Linked DNA regions of Homo sapiens: region 1 is linked to region 2. Evidence: fine-mapped expression QTL. Tissue or cell type: whole blood. Region 2 holds a variant in brackets; the other region holds the start of a gene. All regions are shown on one strand. Distances are between the middles of the regions.

Region 1 (8,105 bases), 120 kb before region 2:
AAGACAGTTACAGGAGAAAACATTTAAATGGTCTTTAAACATATGTAAAGACATATACTCCCCCTCATAATTACAGAGATGCATTTAAAATTAGATGGAGATACTTGCCTATCAGATGGACAATAAATCCCAAAGTTCAACAACAAAGTATACAGTGAGGCTGTATAGAACTCGACACCATGATACACTGTTGGTGGGACTGCAAAATGGTATAATCAATGGAGAGGAATTTAGTAATGTCTGGAAAAATTCCAAATGCATTTACCCTTTTACCCAGCAATCCTACTTCTAGGAATCTTTTTCAAAGATTTACTGGCAAACATATAAAATTATTTAGGTACAAGGGTATTCACTGTGGCATTATTCGTAACAGCAAAAGTCTGAAAAACCCAGATGTCCACCAATAGGGGACTGGTTGAATAAGCCATGGTACATTCCCAAATGGAGTACTATGGATCAAACAGTGAATCATACAGATACCTATATACTGATATGGAGTGATACTCAAGATACAGTAAGAAAAGAAGAACAAGTTATCTAACAGTATGTATATATGTCACCTTTTATATTAGAAGGGGGGATAAGAACATACCATACATATGCTTACATTTTTTTTAGGTTTTCAAAAAGAAATGTTAATGATACAACGAAAAACTAATAAAAACAGTTACTAATAGCAGAAGGAAGGAAATAGGATGGAAAAGACAGAGAAGCAAGATTTATCTGAATATACATTGTTATATATATAATTTTGACTTGTGATCCTGAAAAGCTGAAAACTGAAACAAAGTTTATATCAAGTTGGTGATATAAAAATACACAGAAAAGAATTATTTCACATTGCATTAGAACACAGAATTTACTATACACTTTTAGTAAAATAAAGCAAGCAGAGCTACAAACAAATTTTAAACTTTATTCGGTAGTCTATAATCTAATTGTAGCAATCAATACTGGTATTATTTTGAAATTATTGTGAGATGATGCAAATGAGCAATTATGTCAATGATATGAGGAATCACTTATAGAAAATATGGGGGACAGAAGAACAAATTAAATCTTCCCAAAGAGTCAAAGAGAAAACTCCAAGATGAGAGACATTTTAGGAAATAATTGACTGAGTTTTGGCAACAAGCCAGTGGCATAAAGAAAAAAAGGAGTAGGGAGGTGGGCAAAGAAACTGATTCATTTGGATTTTGACTTGGTAATTTCTATGTTGTTATTTCTTTCATGCTTTTAAAGTACTTTATTGAGTACTCTCAGTTGTATTCAGCAGGAAAATCAGTCTAAATAGCCAACCATATTACCAAAAATAAACAATATCTGACTCTCAAGCATAGCAAATGTTACCTATAATAATGGAAAACTGAAACCACTGATTAGCGTGGGATAGCTATTCCTTGGCAGATGCTTTGTGATACCTTTCACAATGTTGGGGTAATATATCCTAGGACACAAAAGAATACGTAAATTAATTTACTGCTTAATCTAGAATGTAAAAGTTGCCTAACTATCATTACTGACCTAGACAGCCTAATAGAAAATGTAATGAGTCTGAATAATATTTAAAATAAGTTGTAACACATACTTATGCCTCTAAAAAATATTTTTTTTGAGTAACAGTAATACAGTATTATTTTATTTCATGAGAATTTCTTTTATTTATTTATTTATTTTTATTATACTTTAAGTTTTAGGGTACATGTGCACAACGTGCAGGTTAGTTACATATGTATACATGTGCCATGCTGGTGTGCTGCACCCAGTGTAAGAGATTGTTAGAATTCAAATATATTGAAATGATCTCCCTTTTTCTTTTTGAGAATTTTACAATAATCTTTGAATAATATGAAGCAATTTGGTATGTCCCAAACTTGAAATGAGAAACATTGCCACTACTATTGCACTGGAATTTTCTATTATATACAACAGAAACTAAACTTGATACAGCCTAAACCCAAATTCATTTGAATCCATTAATGAAGTAACATGTCTTTTCTTTCAAACAAAAGTACTGTTAAGTGTAATGAAAATGCATAACTCTACTTCTACACTGACTTAATGAGGTTTCCTAAAATTAAGAGATTTAAGTGGTCGGTAAATTGACCCTCAGTCACATCTTTAGAAGTGCAGCAGTGTATATATGAGCTTAAATAGAACTCTAAATGTCAATGCATTCCCTATTTCCACAATATTGCTGAATGTAGTATTTTTAACACATTATTTTAAGCACTATGATTGATGGCTGGTTTCCTAAATCCACAGTAAGAATCCAATTGAGAGTTCAACTGAACCCTCAAAGTAAAGTGGCAATAAAGCACCCAATCAACAATAAACTTCTATGTTGCGGACTCTTAAAATGCAGATACTTTTCGAGGAACATTAGTTTTATACAAAAGGTGGCTCCTAGAGTATAGTTTCTCTTGTAAGAAAATAAACTTCAAATTTTAATACAACAAATTCTATTTGTGGTATAATCTAAATAATGCTAATATAATTTAGAGAAAAACAAACGATTTAGTAACAAGGCATAAAGAGACTTTCCTTACACATAACATGCTAAATATTACTCGTTTTTAAATGGTGCCACTTGGTAACGAAAATACCGTAACTTTATTTGCTTTCTTTAAACTTGCCATTCTGGAAATCAGATTTGTGTTTTAACAGATTTACACAAGCAGTCCACTGAAGAGTGGAGCAAAATTTATCATAAATCTGATCTCACTTTATAAAACTCATGATGAAAAATTTTCCTTTTATATCATTTCATGTAATTTTAAAACTATAAACTACTTTCCCAGAAAGATGAAATGTGCAACACTCTGAAATCACCTAAATTGATACTGCTATTCTTAAAACATAAAATCAAATAAATGGTCATTCATACAGCACCAAAAATGTCTTTGGAAAAAACAATACTCATATCCACTTACCACCCAAGGTTGCATAAAGAAAAAAAACTTTAACTCCAAATATATAAAATAAAACATGTTTATTTTACATAGGAACTGATAATCTGAAGTATAAGATGCTAATTTCCAAATGTATCCTGGCTTGTGTGTAGCCTTGGTCAAATGATCATTGTATCAGAAAGATAAAGAAAAAATAATCGTATTTCAGTACTTCTATACATCCTAAAAGGGAAGACGGAACACTTAAGTGGTTGATAAATTTGAAAAGCTGATTAAACATAATAATCACCATGTTGGGGGAAGACATAAAAGTCATAAAACAGATTTTTTATAATATTAAAAAAGTGACATGAAAATTATACAATTTTAGAAAGGAATATAAAAAGGCAGGAGTTAAAAAATAGTGGGACTAATATCATAGAAAACTATCCATGAGGAAGGTCAAATTTATTTTCAACATGTAAAAAGGATAAAGAGTAGAGGTATTTTAAAAATTCACAGATTCTTAATGAGGCAAATGTTAAAATATGGAACCCAATCTCAGACAAATACATAGAAAGGAGTAAGGGCCAACTCTCATGCATAAGGTATCCCATCCTATAGCAAATCAGATATATAGGTACGCTTGATGCCACAAATTTTTTAAAAAATTGTCCATTTTGTTGCGTGTGCACCTCTTGCCATAAATTTGAGTCAGCACCAGCGACAGCTCTGCAGTCCTCCTATGTGGTACTGATCAGGTGGTTGCAGAGCTTCAGCTCACAGCAACACAATGCAGCTGAGCAGGCAAGCACAGCCCACAGCCAGAAACAGTTCCGACTCTACAGAACAAGACGACCTTTAAGTTTCCCAGAGAAAATGAGATGCTGATGTTGAAGACGACACCACGGTAAGATGTTATTTAAATCAGTAAAAGGCTGACTTTGGAATCTTTTTCCTTTTTCTTTTAAGAAAAAGTCAACGTTAGGATTAAATATATATTCAATAGCAAGTGCATGCACCAGAAATTTGCTGCAGTGTCAGTTGAGGGATATTTTTTATACATTCAGTCACTCTGTAAATATACATATTGTTTTCCTTTAAAATGGGCACTGAAATATACAGAAAAAAATCACTTTATAAAATGTGAGGTTTATAGGTACTGTGTTGGTCTGGATTTTTCAAGTGCTTTTTACAAAGATATATTTATCCTAAAAACATACAGATAAAATTTCGAAGAACTGCTTTAATATCTAAATAAAATCTACCCTATATACACACATTGAATTACATTACTGCAGAGATTAAAAAAAAAAGACACGACAGCCATTTTTTCTCATCTGAGTAAGAAAGCATATCATCAAAAATAGTAATAGCCTACAACTGCAACTATTTATTTGCAAAGAATGCTATTTTATCATATTAAGGCTCTAGAAAGATAAATAAGAAAGAATATGGTTAGAAAAGGGGGGAGGGAGAGAGAAAATAAAGGAGAAAATGCAGGAGAGAGTAGGGAGAGAGTCTCTCTCTACCACATAGCCCAATTGAAGGATTAAGCATTTGGACTATAAATGAAGGGGAGCTTTGTTAGTTTAATCACTGGAACAATTATAAAAGGACTCGACAACAACGAGGTTTATTGAAAATTTTGCCTAATGCTAACTGACCCATGCAGATGCCTAAACTGTATTTGCATATTAAAAGAAGGGTGTATCTGTTTGTTTCTAGGCTTTGATGGAATATCAGATATTGAAAATGTCTCTCTGCCTGTTCATCCTTCTGTTTCTCACACCTGGTATTTTATGCATTTGTCCTCTCCAATGTATATGCACAGAGAGGCACAGGCATGTGGACTGTTCAGGCAGAAACTTGTCTACATTACCATCTGGACTGCAAGAGAATATTATACATTTAAACCTGTCTTATAACCACTTTACTGATCTGCATAACCAGTTAACCCAATATACCAATCTGAGGACCCTGGACATTTCAAACAACAGGCTTGAAAGCCTGCCTGCTCACTTACCTCGGTCTCTGTGGAACATGTCTGCTGCTAACAACAACATTAAACTTCTTGACAAATCTGATACTGCTTATCAGTGGAATCTTAAATATCTGGATGTTTCTAAGAACATGCTGGAAAAGGTTGTCCTCATTAAAAATACACTAAGAAGTCTCGAGGTTCTCAACCTCAGTAGTAACAAACTTTGGACAGTTCCAACCAACATGCCCTCCAAACTACATATCGTGGACCTGTCTAATAATTCTTTGACACAAATTCTTCCAGGTACATTAATAAACCTGACAAATCTCACACATCTTTACCTGCACAACAATAAGTTCACATTCATTCCAGACCAATCTTTTGACCAACTCTTTCAGTTGCAAGAGATAACCCTTTACAATAACAGGTGGTCATGTGACCACAAACAAAACATTACTTACTTACTGAAGTGGATGATGGAAACAAAAGCCCATGTGATAGGGACTCCATGTTCTACCCAAATATCATCTTTAAAGGAACATAACATGTATCCCACACCTTCTGGATTTACCTCAAGCTTATTCACTGTAAGTGGGATGCAGACAGTGGACACCATTAACTCTCTGAGTGTGGTAACTCAACCCAAAGTGACCAAAATACCCAAACAATATCGAACAAAGGAAACAACGTTTGGTGCCACTCTAAGCAAAGACACCACCTTTACTAGCACTGATAAGGCTTTTGTGCCCTATCCAGAAGATACATCCACAGAGACTATCAATTCACATGAAGCAGCAGCTGCAACTCTAACTATTCATCTCCAAGATGGAATGGTCACAAACACAAGCCTCACTAGCTCAACAAAATCATCCCCAACACCCATGACCCTAAGTATCACTAGTGGCATGCCAAATAATTTCTCTGAAATGCCTCAACAAAGCACAACCCTTAACTTATGGAGGGAAGAGACAACCACAAATGTAAAGACTCCATTACCTTCTGTGGCAAATGCTTGGAAAGTAAATGCTTCATTTCTCTTATTGCTCAATGTTGTGGTCATGCTGGCTGTCTGAGGGTCTGCATTTTCTGAAACTAATGAAAGCACTCCTCCCTGATGTACAGTTGGGAAAATATGTCCATATCTAACCAGTGATTCGAGCTATATTTAAGTATTCAAGAAAGCCAGTCTTAACATTTCTAACTCTGATGTAAATGAAGTAACTTGTCTTAAATAAAAGAAATGCACAATGTCTTGGTACTTGCTGCTATTTTACTGTCTTAATTAAGTAAACTAATGAGTTTCTTTTATAAAAAAAATGAAATGTTTTAAGGCTTCAATTTATTGCACAAAATATAAAGCATCTAAACTTTAATATGTATTTTATGTATGTTTACACTGTCAAACATCTGGAAAATAAAAGGTCTATGCTCATAACTGTGTCATTTGGCTTTCCAGTCATACCAACTTTAGCAGAATCAAAATGACCTCACCATTTTTGTTCTAGGGTACCTTGGTAAAATCTTTAAGGTAAATAAAATGGCGGTAGTATCCAAGGATATTTTACTGAAGTAAAATCGTAGCTGCCATCCCATGAATGGTTATGCTACAACATTATTTTACAGACAAGCCATAATTGTTTTAAATCTAAATGATGTCCTGCTTCTGAGGAACTCTTGGCTACTTGACAGATTATATAATGGACAAAAGCTCTTCAAAAAGCTAGAAGACACTAGGCTTTGCATTTTAATAAGAAAAGTTTAACGGTTGTGTTTTTTGCATGTAAGAAAAGTGTTAAAAACATAATGAAAAAATTTAAAAACATGTAAAGAAGCAGTTTTAGTGCAGATTTAACACACCATTAATGGAGAATTTAAATATTTACAAAATTAAAATCCTACTACATGAAGGAGAAGAAAATTTATCTTTTACAAATCAGAAATCAGAATTACCTAAATTAAAAATAAGATTAGCTTAAGAATAAAATCATTGGGTCTGACGAACTTGGGCAGTACTGAGGAAGTGAGGAAGGAGAGAGGGAAAGGGAAAAGGGCATTTGGTACTACAACCAGGTGGTGAACCCAGTAAAACAGACTGAGGACTAAGGCTAGGCATGGGACAGAGATCTTGACACTCCAAATCAAACCACACTGGAACTCCAACTAGAAGAAAATCACTGAGAAATTCTCTACAAATATAAAAGTTAGCCAACTTATGAATTAGTGACAAACATAAGAAACAGCCACAAGGCAGCAAAAGAAGTCCTGAAACAGGATTGATTAAAATGCAAGACAGCATAACTGAGATGGGTGAGACACAAATGTGGTATTTAATTTGTGAGACGTAAGGCAGAATCTCATTTCAAGCATTTCTAGAGGTGGGAAAAGATAGAGAAAGGAATTTTTATGTTCCTTCGTAAAAACTTTTAAAAATTCAGATAGCCTCCTTTGCTGGTTTAGGAACATTTCTATTGAGAGAGAGAAAAGTAACAACACTCTAATGTGTTCTTTTTTTTGCTTTTTAAGGACCAGGATTATGGAAAAATTACCATTAAGCTTCAACAAAACAGTCATCTTTCATGCTGTCTAGTACAGTGGCTCTCGAACATTTTCTGCCTTAGCAAACCTGATTGGCTCACTGTGTCAGGGAATCTCACCATGAAGAAACAGGATTATTTGAAAAAGTCCCCTAAATGATTTTAAAATGCATTACCTCTCTATATACGGAAGCTATCTCCACTCCCTCCCAAACACTGATTAGTACCTTCACCATCCATGATAGGGACTAATTGCTTAGATAATCCCTACTCTACCACATACTTGTGTCTTATTTAAAAAAACATATACACCGACTTTCACAGAAAGTAGGTTTCTTTTTTTTTTTTTTTTTTTTTTTTTTTTTTTTTGAGACGAAGTCTCGCTCTTATCCCCCAGGCTGGAGTGCAATGGCGTGATCTCGGCTGACTGCAATCTCCCCCTCCCAGGTTCAAGCAATTCTCTCACCTCAGCCTCCCAAGTAGCTGGGATTACAGGCGCCTGCCACCACGCTCGACTAATTTTTGTATTTTCAGTAGAGACGGGGCTTCATCATGTTGGCCAGGCTGGTCTCAAACTCCTGACCTCAGGTGATTCGCCTGCTTTGGCCTCCCAAAGTGCTAGGATTACAGGCATGAGCCACCACGCCTGCCCTGAAAGTAGGTATCTTAGAGGTAACTGTCTTTTCCTCTGAGGAT
Region 2 (8,108 bases):
CAGGGGTGTTGGGGGTGGCTTCTGAGGAGAATCAACATTATCTTGCCTGGCAACTGCCTCAGGGGAGGCCATTCCTGTTGCCTCAGGCAGCGCAGGGTTTATCTCTTCAGACAAAAGTGGAAAGGCTGATGGCAGCATGGCTCAGGGAGGGGATGTTGCCACTACTGGGGATGGGGAAGCTGTTTCTTCTGGCAAAAAAGGTTCATCAGAGTTTACAAACTCAGAGTCCCCAGCTTCATCAGGGTCCTCCCACACATGCCCTTTCCAAGTTGCAGGGTCCCATTCTTTTCCAATCAATGCCCACACTTTAACAGTAGACACCTGGTTAGGCTGTACATGCACCTTTTGTTGCAGGTCAGCCACTTGCATGATAAGAGTTTGTGTTTGTTTTTTCACAATTTCAGCTCTTTTTCTACAGGAGATAAGGGTCTCACTCAGGTCAATCTTAGCAGATTTGAGGCTCAGTATCTGCTTCTGAAGACAGGAGACAGAATCCCTGAGCTCATCATTTTCTATTTTATTTTTTTATTTTTTTTTTTTATTTTTTTTTTTTGAGACGGAGTCTCGCTGTCGCCCAGGCTGGAGTGCAGTGGCGCAATCTCGGCTCACTGCAGGCTCCGCCCCCTGGGGTTCACGCCATTCTCCTGCCTCAGCCTCCGGAGTAGCTGGGACTACAGGCGCCCGCCACCTCGCCCGGCTAATTTTTTGTATTTTTAGTAGAGACAGGGTTTCACCGTGTTAGCCAGGATGGTCTCGATCTCCTGACCTCGTGATCCGCCCGCCTCGGCCTCCCAAAGTGCTGGGATTACAGGCGTGAGCCACCGCGCCCGGCCCATCATTTTCTTTCACCACTTTGTCCACTGAATTTAGGAGCAACCAACCAGCTTCATTATGTTCCTTGGTTCTCCATATATGGTCAAAGGTATTATTATGTATAGGGTCACTAAACTCCTTGCCTCTCATTAGCGGTGAATCAGGAGTGTCAAATGCATTTATTTTGCAAACTCTCTAAACAGTTCACAGCAACGACTATCAGTGTTCTCCACAATATTAGAAGTAGAGTCCTTAATATTTTAGGGTCTAATCATATTAAGCAGCAAACTCCAGAAACCCCCAAACAAACTAAGAAACTCCATCCTTAATACTCCGTTCCTCTAGAACCACACTCCTTGTACCAAAATCTCTATTAGGGTTCTCTAGAGGGACAGAAGTAATAGAATATTTATATAAAGGGGATATTAACTATTAACTAGCACGATCACAAGGTCCCACAATAGGCCGTCTGCAGGCTAAGAGGCAAGAAGAGCCAGTCCAAGTTCCAAAACTAAAGAACTTGGAGTCTGATGTTCGAGGGCAGGAAGCATCCAACACAGGAGAAAGATGTAGGCTGGGAGGCTAGGCCCGTCTCTCTTTTCACATTTTTCTGCCTGCTTATACTCCAGCCATGCTGGCAGCTGATTAGATGGTGCACCACCCAGATTAAGGGTGGGTCTGCCTTTCCCAGCCCACTGACTCAAATGTTAATCTCCTTTGGCAACAACTTCACAGATACACCCAGGATCAATACTTTGTATCCTTCAATCCAATCAAGTTGACACTCAGTATTTATCATCAAACCTACTATTTTGAAGGGCTCCAAAACAATCTACCATGAAAAATGGTGTCCTCATAATGGAAAAGTTGAGATATACACCTAAGTGGAGTAACACGCAATCACAGACTCTCAAGGATTACCTGGTTCATTTATTTACCCTTTAATGTATAAATTCCCGGTCCAATACTTCTACAAAGTAATAAATCATTCAGCTGATTCTGAACATCTCCATCTACAGGCAAACCATGAAGGAAACCATCTCATGTTCAGCCAGCTAAGAGTATTTCTCCAAAAGCAGCAAAAAATGAAAAAAAAAATATTTGCAAAACAAACTGCATATTGAAATTTCAGTAAAACCCTAGGATTAATACTCAGTTCTTTTTTTTTTCAATCACCTAGGTGATATTTAAAAAAATTTTAAGAGCCTCCTAGAATTACCAGTTGTCATGGTGCCAATTTCACTATAGATGGTATATGCGAGAGCCTTACCTTCCTGGCAAAATTCTTTGAAAACTGTTCTAAAATACTTAAAATGAGTTACTAGATAATTTCAGTAGCACTATATGGACACATACCCTAAGTACATGCAAATAACACACTATAAAAGTGATGAACTCAAGTAGGGCAATCCTTGTAGTGAATATTAGAGAAACTACGTTTAATAATAACAGAGGTATCGTTTAGTCTTCTCAGACAAAAGAATGAAACTAAGGGATTATTTTAAATCTTTGTTCATTGCCTGGTATTATTTTCCCTCTGCCAAATAAAATTATGTATGAGTATGTCTCTTCTAAGTCCATCAAACAAAGAAACCTAAAATGATCATTTAAATGGTTCCCTGAAATACTTTGCTTAAATAATAAGCCTAAAGTAATACACACCTTGAGTAAAATAAACTGCTTCACATCTAGATATAATGGAAATAATTTTGCCCTCCTTACCTTATTCATGTTGTTTTCATCAACCACGTCTTTGGATATATCCTGGATTATTTCTGGACACAAGATAAGGAGAATGATTTGTAGTGGCCAAACTGCTGCTTTACGTTTGGTGCTTTCAGCAAAACCATCCACCAAGTCAAATAGCTTTTCTGCACATTCTGCATGAAAAATATATTAAATGACATTATTAGATAGGAACAAAATCCCTGGCATTAAAGTAAAAGCTGACACTATGTAAAAACCCAAGGGCAACATTTTTAAAAGATAAACATGGAACTTCATTTAAGCAACTACACAAATGCATTCTGGTAAGTAGACAAGCAATGTAATACTGTCTATGTGTTAGAAGAGCTATCTTGATCTATCCTGGAAAAGCTCACATTTTAGAATGGATGATCATGTATTCAGTCTCACTGTGAAGGGCCTTATGCAAAGTGTGATGTACCCAAGCAACAAAGACTGAACAGCTTCCCAAAAAGAATTACCAAAGTTCTCCAGGAGTCTGTATTCTCTGCCTTGCAGTTGTGTCTTACATTATAGGTGAGAATATTACTACTTTATACACATCTCCCTAAATACAAAATAAAGCTTCAGAGCACATGCTTCTCTACAACAAAGAGCCAAACACCCCATCCTATCACAGCTCTAAAGATCTGACCTTCATTTCAAACTACTTTGTTTGCTCCAAGGAAAGGAAGAGGGTTGGGCCTAATTTAGAAATGTAAGAGAAAAACAGTATTTCCTATTTGACACCAGTTGACAATAGAAGATGTAAAAGCACCTTTATAACAAAAATAACTTGGAAAACGATGATAGGTTTTTATGTCACAAGTAGGCATTTAAAAGACAAAAAAAAAAAAAAAATCAATCGTATCCTTACCAGCCATATCAGTCTGTGGGATCTGGTACAGTTTTGTAAATTCATCTGGATAATTTTCTACCCAGTTCCAAAATGCCTATAAATAAAGAACCACATGTCTTTACAGTGATTTTTTGTAATACAGTAAATAAAATGTCACAAACTTCTAACTTCCTTCA[T/C]AATAATATTACAATGTATTCTTCCTGAAAATGAATGTGAAACTATCACTCAAGTCATAACTTTTTGATTCAGGATGCTAACAACAGCAAATTTTACATCAAAAACAAAATTTTAATACCAGAGAGGTTGTAACTTACCTTTTCCAGGCTATTTATAACTGCTAACTGCGCAACCTTCTTTAGGGCTTTAAATTTAAATGCTGTTTCTGGAAAAAACACAATTTTTAAAAATTAACTCTAGAATAAGTTAACACAAATACAACTCAGAGCAAAATAACTTTCCATTTACGTATTACTTTTGCTCCAATATTATCTGTAAGCAATGAAAGGTAAAGACACCTAACATAAACCCAAAACTCGATAGTTGTCTGCTAGGAAAGAAAAATTCCATAAACAGCAAATATGCCTTGGACATCAATGATTGTGAGCTTTTTCTTTTAATAACTTGCTTTTTCAAAAAAAAGTATAAAACACATACAGGATATTGGTTCCTCCTATCCATGAGCATGGAATTGTTTTCCATTTGTGTCCTCTCTTATTTCCTAGAGCAGTGGTTTGTAGTTCTCCTTGAAGAGGTCCTTCACATCCCTTGTAAGTTGGATTCCTAGGTATTTTATTCTCTTTGTAGCAGTTGTGAATGGGAGTTCACTCATGATTTGGCTCTCTGTTTGTCTGTTATTGGTGTATAGGAATGCTTGTGATTTTTGCACATTGATTTTGTATCCTGAGACTTTGCTGAAGTTGCTTATCAGCTTAAGGAGATTTTGGGCTGAGACGATGGGGTTTTCTAAACATACAACCATGTCATCTGCAAACAGAGGCAATTTGACTTTCTCTTTTCCTAACCGAATACCCTTTATTTCTTTCTCTTGCCTGATTGCCCTGGCCAGAACTTCCAATATTAGTTTGAATAGGAGTGGTGAGAGAGGGCATCCTTGTCTTGTGCCAGTTTTCAAAGGGAATCCTTCCAGTTTTTGCCCATTCAGTATGATATTGGCTGTGGGTTTGTCATAAATAGCTCTTATTATTTTGAGATATGTTTGATCAATCCCTAGTTTATTCAGAGTCTTTGGCATGAAGGGCTGTTGAATTTCATCAAAGGCCTTTTCTGTATCTATTGAGATAATCATGTGGTTTTTGTCATTGGTTCTGTTTACGTGATGGATTACTTTCATTGATTTGCATATGTTGAAACCAGCCTTGCATCCCAGGGATGAAGCCAACTTGATCATGGTGGACAAGCTTTTTGATGTGCTTGTTGGATTCAGTTTGCCATTATTTTATTGAGGATTTTTGCATCGATGTTCATCAGGGATATCAGCCTAAAATTTTCTCTTGTTGTTGTGTCTCTGCCAGGTTTTGGTATGACCATGATGCTGGCCTCATAAAATGAGTTAGGGAGGATTCACTCTTTTTCTATTGTTTGAAATAGTTTCAGAAGGAATGGTACCAGCTCCTCCTCTAGCTGAATCTGGCTGTGAATCCATCTGGTCCTGGACTTTTTTTGGTTGGTAGGCTATTAATTATTGCCTCAATTTCAGAACTTGTTATTGGTCTATTCAGGGATTCGACTTCTTCCTGGTTTAGTCTTGGGAGGGTGTATGTGTCCAGGAATTTATCCATTACTGCTAGATTTTCTAGTTTATTTGCACAGAGGTGTTTATAGTATTCTCTGATGGTAGTTTGTATTTCTGTGGGATCGGTGGTGATATCCCTTTTATCATTTTTTATTGCGTCTATTTGATTCTCCTCTCTTTCTTCTTTATGAGTCTGGCTAGTGGTCTATTTATTTTGTTGATCTTTTCAAAAAACCAGCTCCTGGATTCATTGATTTTTTTTTTTTTTTAAACAGAGTCTTGCTCTGTCGCCCAGGTTGGAGTGCAGTTGCACGATCCTGGCTCACTGCAAGCTCTGCCTCCCGGGTGCACGCCATTCTCCTGCCTCAGGCTCCCGAGTAGCTGGGACTACAGGTGCCTGCCACCATGCCCGGCTAATTTTTTTGTATTTTTAGTAGAGATGGGGTTTCACTGAGGCCAAGGCGGCGGATCACGAGGTCAGGAGACTCATTGATTTTTTGAAAGGTTTTTCGTGTCTCTATCTCCTTCAGTTCTGCTCTGATCTTAGTTATTTCTTGTCCTCTGCTAGCTTTTGAATTTGTTTGCTCTTGCTTCTCTAGTTCTTTTAATTGTGATGTTAGGGTGTCAATTTTAGATCTTTCCTGCTTTATCTTGTGGGCATTTAGTGCTATAAATTTCCCTCTACACACTGCTATAAATGTATCCCAGAGGTTTTGGTACGTTGTGTATTTTTCTCATTGGTTTCAAAGAACATCTTTATTTCTGCCTTCATTTTGTTATCTTCCCAGTAGTCATTCAGGAGCAGGTTGTTCAGTTTCCATGTAGTTGTGTGGTTTAGAGTGAGTTCCTTAATCCTGAGTTCTAGTTTGATTGCACTGTGGTCTGAGAGTCTTTGTTATGATTTCCATTCTTTGGCATTTGCTGAGGAGTGTTGTATTCCAATTATGTGGTCAATTTTGGAATAAGTGCAATGTGGTGCTGAGAAGAATATACATTCTGTTGATTTGGGGTGGAGAGTTCTGCAGATGTCTATTAGGTCCACTTGGTGCAGGGCTGAGTTCAACTCCTGGATATCCTTGTTAACTTTCTGTCTCGTTGATCTGTCTAATGTTGACAGTGGGGTGTTAAAGTCTCCCATTATTATTGTGTGGGAGTCTAAGTCTCTTTGTAGGTCTCTAAGGACTTGCTTTATGAATCTGGGTGTTCCTGTATTGGGTGCATATATATTTAGGGTAGTTAGCTCTTGTTGTTGCACTGATCTCTTTACCATTATGTAATACCCTTCTTTGACTCTTTTGATCTTTTTTGTTGGTTTAAAGTCTGTTTTATCAGAGACTAGGATTGCAACCCTACTTTTTTTTGCTTTCCATTTGCTTGGTAAATCTTCCTCCAACCCTTTATTTTGAGCCTATGTGTAACTTTGCATGTGAGATGGGTCTCCTGAATACAGCACAGTGATGGGTCTTGACTCTTTATCCAATTTGCCAGTCTGTGTCTTTTAATTGGGGCATTTAGCCCGTTTACATTTAAGGTTAATAGTGTTATGTGTGAATTTGTTATTATGATGCTAGCTGGTTATTTAGCCCATTAGTTGATGCAGTTTCTTCACAGCATAGATGGTCTTTACAATTTGTTATGTTTTTGCAGTGGTTGGTACCAGTTGTTCCTTTCCATGCTTAGTGCTTCCTTCAGGAGCTCTTGTAAGGCAGGCCTGGTGGTGACAAAATCTCTCAGCATTTGCTTGTCTGTAAAGTATTTTATTTCTCCTTCGCTTATGAAGCTTAGTTTGCCTGGATATGAAATTCTGTGATGAAAATTCTTTTCTTTAAGAATGTTGAATATTGGCCCCCACTCTATTCTGGCTTGTAGGGTTTCTGCCTAGAGATCTGCTGTCAGTCTGATGGGCTTCCCTTTGTGGGTAACCCGACCTTTCTCTCTGGCTGCCCTTAATATTTTTTCCTTCATTTCAACCTTGGTGAATCTGACGATTATATGTCTTGGGGTTGCTCTTCTCGAGGATTATCTTTGTAGTGTTCTCTGTATTTCCTGAATTTGAATGTTGGCCTGCCTTGCTAGGTTGGGGAAGTTCTCCTGCTAATATCCTGAAGAGTGTTTTCCAACTTTTTCCATCCTCCCCATCACTTTCAGGTACACTAACCAAATGTAGATTTGGTCTTTTCACATAGTCCCATATTTCTTGGAGGCTTTGTTCATTTCTTTTCACTCTTTTTTCTCTAATCTTGTCTTCTCGCTTTATTTCATTGAGTTGATCTTCAATCTCTGATATCCTTTCTTCTGCTTGATTGATTTGGCTATTGATACTTGTGTATGCTTCACGAAGTTCTCATGCTGTATTTTTCAGCTCCATCAGGTCATTTATGTTCTTCTCTAAGATGGTTATTCTAGTCAGCAATTCGTCTAACCTTTTTTCCAGGTTCTTAGCTTCCTTGCATTGGGTTAGAACATGCTCTTTTAGCTTGGAGGAGTTTGTTATTACCCATCTTCTGAAGCCTACTTCTGTCAATTTGTCAAACTCATTCTTTGTCCAGTTTCGTTCCTTTGCTGGTAAGGAGTTGTGATCCTTTGGAGGAGAAGAGGCGTGCTCGTTTTTTTTTCAGCCTTTTTGCACTGGTTTCTTCCCATTTTTGTGGATTTATCTACCTTTGGTCTTTGATGTTGATGATGATACTATTCCTTTCTTAGTTTTCCTTCTAACAGGCAGAACCCTCTGCTGCAGGTCTGCTGGAGTTTGCTGGAGGTCCACTCCAGACCCTGTTTGCCAGAGTATCACCAGCAGAGGCTGCGGAACAACAAAGATTGCTGCGTGTTCCTACCTCTGGAAGCTTTGTCCCAGAGGGGCACCTGCCAGATGCCAGCCAGAGAGGACACAAACAAACGGAAAAACATTCCATGCTCATCGATAGGAAGAATCAATATCGTGAAAATGGCCGTACTGCC

The links. PIP is the estimated chance that this variant, and not a neighbour inherited with it, causes the effect.
Region 1: it holds the start of OMG, and the variant in region 2 is fine-mapped to the expression of OMG in whole blood (TOPMed, PIP above 0.99).

What each region holds. Positions count from the first base shown.
Region 1 is chr17:31,292,852-31,300,956 of GRCh38, reverse strand. OMG (oligodendrocyte myelin glycoprotein) reads left to right here and starts at 3,718. Exons shown (of 2, transcript NM_002544.5): 1 at 3,718-3,801; 2 at 4,620-6,310. The coding sequence starts at 4,626. The coding sequence ends at 5,948. All of the region lies in intron 36 of NF1 (neurofibromin 1), which reads right to left.
Region 2 is chr17:31,177,093-31,185,200 of GRCh38, reverse strand. NF1 (neurofibromin 1) reads right to left here. Exons shown (of 58, transcript NM_001042492.3): 6 at 3,712-3,779; 7 at 3,416-3,491; 8 at 2,536-2,693. Among named protein-coding and RNA genes, the nearest start is that of MIR4733HG, 86 kb to the right of the region's middle. The variant T/C (reference allele first, on the strand shown) is at 3,574.